2 separate regions of the Homo sapiens genome follow, and region 1 is linked to region 2. Evidence: fine-mapped expression QTL. Tissue or cell type: prefrontal cortex. Region 2 holds a variant in brackets; the other region holds the start of a gene. All regions are shown on one strand. Distances are from middle to middle.

What was found. PIP is the estimated chance that this variant, and not a neighbour inherited with it, causes the effect.
Region 1: ATRIP starts here. The variant in region 2 is fine-mapped to the expression of ATRIP in prefrontal cortex (BrainSeq, PIP 0.91).

What each region holds. Positions count from the first base shown.
Region 1 is chr3:48,445,385-48,448,063 of GRCh38, forward strand. It overlaps ATRIP (ATR interacting protein), which reads left to right and starts at 1,353. Exons shown (of 13, transcript NM_130384.3): 1 at 1,353-1,708. The coding sequence starts at 1,462. It overlaps ATRIP-TREX1 (ATRIP-TREX1 readthrough), which reads left to right and starts at 1,395. Exons shown (of 15, transcript NR_153405.1): 1 at 1,395-1,708. It also overlaps a transcript of CCDC51 not described here. RefSeq lists a silencer at 1,298-1,657.
Region 2 is chr3:48,605,149-48,607,827 of GRCh38, forward strand. UQCRC1 (ubiquinol-cytochrome c reductase core protein 1) reads right to left here. Exons shown (of 13, transcript NM_003365.3): 3 at 622-708. SNORA94 (small nucleolar RNA, H/ACA box 94) reads right to left here and starts at 2; the gene lies at 1-2. The variant C/T (reference allele first, on the strand shown) is at 1,621.

The DNA.
Region 1 (2,679 bases), 160 kb before region 2:
GGGAAGCCTGTGTTGGTCCTCTCCAGAAAGTTGCACAGCCAGTAGCACCCTTCAGTAGGCTTCAGGCATTCCCTGTGGGGCCTTGCTAGCTGGCACCCAGCCGTATGCTGCTAAAACAAACCTGAGCACCAGTGATTCACACTGTTCCTGAAAGCAAGTTACTTGGTGGAACCTATCCCTCTTTAACAAATGAACAGTCCTGTCTCTTTCCAGGACCAGAGTCCTGCAGCAATTAAGCATGCAACACTTGGGAAGCTATCTGACGGAGACTACCAGTTGCTCCAAAAAATTTTAAACTCCTTAGACATTATAGGCCCTGATAGCACTCTCTTTTTCATTTACTCTTTTCATTTAATGCTTTCACAAATATTCCTAGGACACTCACAGGTGAAGTTTGGCACTGAGCAGGTAAGGCTGAAAGAGTCTTGCTCCTGTTACTCTCCATTGCCAAATTCTCTATTGCGGCTAACTTCTGCACACCACAGCTGCCCAATAAAATCTGTCAGGCACGCAAGCCCACCTCAAATTGCTGCTCCTTTGTGAAGCTTTACCTCTGTTCGCCACCGGTAACTCTTACCTGGCCTTTGTGTGGCCTCCCTTTCAATGTAGAATTCTCGTGTTAGTCTTATGTGCCAGCCTCCTACCCCTCTATCCTGCTAACTTGACTCAACTTGTAGGACAGCGCAGGTGCCATTTACAGGGGGACTTCCTTGACCTCCTGAGCCCTATTCTATACAACCAGAGCTTAGGAAAAAAAAACAGTCCAGCACTCAGAGGAATGGATGTTAACAGCCTGAGCAGCTCCCACCCCCTCCCACACAAGAACAGCTCCAAACATCATTCCTCCTTGGACTTTCCTCCTCCCTGGGCCTACCTCAAATGTACACATGTGAAACATTCACTAAACCCGAAGATGTCTGCACACGACAGCTCTATTCATACTCCTCACCCAACAAATTCCACTCTCCTCAAGAAAGCCTAGGGGTTTGTGGGAGGTGGGTCTGGCGGCAGAAGGAAAGCGAGGTCACGGAGACCACATCCCTGAATGATGCCTGGCTCGACTCAAACGCAACACGCGTGAATGCTAGGGCAGGCTGCTCCTGCGCGGCCCTCCTCCACGGAATGCCAGGGAGGGAGCGCAAAGCCACCAGCGCGGCGGAGCTGGTGCGCCTCCGGCCCGCCTCTCCGGTAACGGGTCGCGCCGCACTGAGTCCTTGCAGCAAACCTGCCGAATCCCGCCCGTGGACCTCTAAACACCGGGCGGGGCCGGGTGTGGCGGCGCGCTCGGACGTTCGTCATTCCTCCGCGCCCTCCGCCTGCCAGCTGATTGGCCCCTGGGCCAGGGGCGGGGCACTCGCGGCGGAGGCAAGCGGCGGCGCGCGGACGGTTGGTCCAGTTCTCCGGCCTGGCGGCAGGCAAGTCTAGCTCGGCGCTGTCGGATACTTGGGGTGAGCGGAAAGCATGGCGGGGACCTCCGCGCCAGGCAGCAAGAGGCGGAGCGAGCCCCCGGCGCCTCGCCCCGGCCCGCCGCCGGGCACCGGGCACCCCCCGAGCAAGCGGGCCCGGGGCTTCTCCGCAGCCGCTGCCCCGGACCCTGACGACCCGTTCGGCGCGCATGGGGACTTCACTGCCGACGACCTGGAGGAGCTTGACACCCTCGCGTCACAGGCCCTGAGCCAATGTCCGGCCGCGGCTCGGGACGTGTCCAGTGAGTGCTCCTCGCGGCCTTTTGCTCGGAGGGAGTTGTCAACCGCGCCAGATCCCCTTGATGGCTGTGGCTTCGGAACCTCGCGGCCAGCACTGCCTTTTCGCCTTTTTAAAATATGGGAACACCCTGATTTAAGCAGCGGTTGTCTTCCAGAAGGTCCTTTGATTTTAGGGGGAAATGCATTAGCCAGGTCAAACAGCCGATTTGAAACACAGAAGGCTAAGTTGACATTTTACGTTATTTTCTAAAGTTTAGGCCACTTGGTTCTTGGTTCTAAGCAGAGATCCTTGGAACACACCTACCACCACCATCAGAACCATCACTACCCATGCATGGGGACCCATTCTTGTGACAAGTTTGAGCGGCTTTAGATCTTATGAAGCCCACTGTCTCCCTTGGGCAGTGTGAGCATGGGAGGAGCCAGACACAGGCAAGAGATGAAATAAATTTATTCTTTTATACAACCAGTAAACTGTGCTAGGTGCCCAAACGTGAGGAACTGCAGCTGACCTTACAATGAACAAAATACAAAAACTGTCCTTCATGGAGCTTACATTCTAGTTGAGGAGTGAGTGAAGTCTTGAGGACTCCCAGAAAGAGAAATGTTTTGAGTGCACCTTGCATCTGTACTTGGGTGTCTCAAGGCACCTTAAACTCAACACGATCATTTCCTGGAAACCCAGTCCTCCTCCAGCACTTCTAGCATGGTGCCGGCAAAGCAGACATTCAGAGAATGATGACCAGATGTTCCACAAGGAAGTAACTAGCACGACTCTCCATCCAGTGGCACAAAGCGACTCTTCCCCTTTCCTTGACTCTACATCTAATTTATTTGGAAAGCATGTCAAGCTTACCTTCTTAATCCTTCTCTGGAGTCTATCCTATTCACATTGCTTCTACCAGCTGCCTGATCTGTGTTACCATGAGTCCTCTCTTGAACAATGGTCTGCTAAATTGGTTTCCCATTTCCA
Region 2 (2,679 bases):
GAACCCACTCCTCCCATGCCATTCCCATGACTGTATGTTTGTGAATACATGCTAGTGGCCTCTGTGGGACCCAATCCTAGTCCTGTGTGTGGAGAACAGTGGTGCTATCTCTTGGTGTGCACACACACGTTAATTCTGCACACATACCTGTGACATTGCAGCTGGCTAGGTTGCCTACTATGGCTCCATGGCCCTGCCCACCCCATAATCCTTCTCCATGTTTTTCATTCCTTTAAAAAACATGGGTCTTTACAACCAAGGGATGCCTAGATATTCCACCAGAGAAGAACATTTCATAAGCAAGCATGCATGCCCATGTCTGTGGGTTTGTTAAAATGCATGTGCATATCTACGTGTGTTCCACAGGCCTGGCTTCTCTGGTGAAAAGTGGGGCTCCTATGGTTCCTTGGGTCCTCTTGGCTCTGAGGGCCTCAGGCAGGGGCTCATCAGATACGTGCCCACTCAGGAGAGGTTAAGCTCATGTGGCTCCTTTTAGGAAAGCCAGCCAGACATCAGCCCCGCAACTGAGGCCCATAATCAGGCTAATTTTTCTGACCTTCATCCTCAGGAGGGACAACAGGCAGCCCTAAGCCCAGAGGAGACAGACTTTAAGAGCCTCACCTTGAAAGCCAGATGCTCCAAAAAGTAGCCTGCCCCATTATTCTTCTCAGTCTCAAAACGGCTGCCAACATCAATCCACACTCCCACCTGGTCAAGAAGCCACCAGAAAAGGTTACAAACAAACCACTCCCCAGCCCCCTACTCACACCCCACCTGAGTGACTCAGTACAAGCCCCAGGCAGGGACTTATGAATCCTGGAGTCAGGGAGAGCTGCCCCAGCAGGACCCCTGTGCTTGGGGACACAGTCATGCTTGGAAAACAGGGGCAGCCGAATGACTCGTCACACCACATCATTGCTCTCCTGATTGGCTATCAAGGACCCACAGGGACACTTCTAACTGTGCACATTTACCTGGTCTCACCAGCATACAAATCCTTAAATTCACTCTCAATTTTCAGTTAATTATTTGTTTTTGTCTAAGCATACAACATATCATTTGCAAATAACAACTTATTTTTTCCTTTCTAAAAATTACACGCTGCCTTTGTTCTGGCAATGATTTTATCCTTTCATCATTAAGGAAGGGACTATTGGTTTAGACTGTATATTTTATCACACTAAATATTGTTCCTATAATATCTTTTTTGTTGTTGTTTTTAATCAGCTCTGAACACCAAACAGTGTTGCCTTGGCACCCAATAAGGTAATATTAATTTTCTTGACAGCCTCCTGGTTGCTGTGAAACACGCACCACAGGCTGGGCGCGGTGGCTTATACCTGTAATCCCAGCACTTTGGGAGGCCAAGGCAGGTGGATTACGAGGTCAGCAGTTCGAGACCAGCCTGGCCAATATAGTGAAACCCTGTCTCTACTAAAAATACAAAAATTAGCCAGGTGTGGTGGCACGTGCCTGTAGTCCTAGCTACTTGGGAGGCTGAGGCAGAATTGCTTGAACCCAAGAGGCAGAGGATGTAGTGAGCCAAGATCGTGCCACTGCACTCCAGCCTGGGTGACAGAGAGACTCCATCTCAAAAAAAAAAAAAAAATGTAAAAGAAA[C/T]ACGTACCACTCACCCCACTTGGTCACACGGTCTAGTCTTTTAATTTACTATTTGTTCACAGCTGATTTAAGTTTTTCACATCTACTTTCCTAAGTACTTTTTTTTTTTTTTGACATGGAGTCTCACTCTGTCACGAGACGAGTGCAGTGGTGTGATGTCGGCTCACTCAACCTCTGCTTCCTGGGTTCAAGTGATTCTCCCGCCTCAGCCTCCCGAGTAGCTGGAACTACAGGCGTGCACCACCACGCCCAGCTAATTTTTGTTTTTTTGTGTGTGTGTGTTTTTTTTTTGAGACGGAGTCTCGCTCTGTCACCCAGGCTGGAGTGCAGTGGTGCGATCTTGGCTCACTGCAAGCTCTGCCTCCCAGGTTCATGGCATTCTCCTGCCTCAGCCTCCCGAGTAGCTGGAACTACAGGCGCCCGCCACCACGCCCGGCTAATTTTTTGTATTTTTAGTAGAGACGGGGTTTCACCGTGTTAGCCAGGATGGTCTCAATCTCCTGACCTTGTGATTCGCCCGCCTCGGCCTCCCAAAGTGCTGGGATTACAGGCGTGAGCCACCGCGTCTAGCCTAATTTTTGTATTTTTAGTAGAGGCGGGGTTTCACCATGTTGGCCAGGATGGTCTCAATCTCTTGACCTCGTGATCCGCCTGCCTCGGTCTCCCAAAGTGCTGGGATTATAGGCATGAGCCACTGCGCCCAGCCAAGACTTTTTTTTATTGTATAAATTTATGGGGTACAAGCACAATTTTTAGAAATTTCTATCCACACCTGAAACTCCATTTTTTTCTTTTTTTTTTTTTTTAAGACAGAGGGCCTTGCTCTGTCACCCAGGCCAGAGTACAGTGACATAATCATGGCTCACTGCAACCTCTTATTCCTGGGCTCAATCGATCCTCCTGCTTTGGCCTCTCAAAGCCCTGGAATTACTGGTGTAAGCCACTGTGCCCCGCCCACAAGTGTGATGTCATTACAGGCACAGAATGCACAAGTAGTCAAATCAGGGATTCTGAATTATCCATCACCAGAATAACAAACCTTGTACCCATTAAGTAATT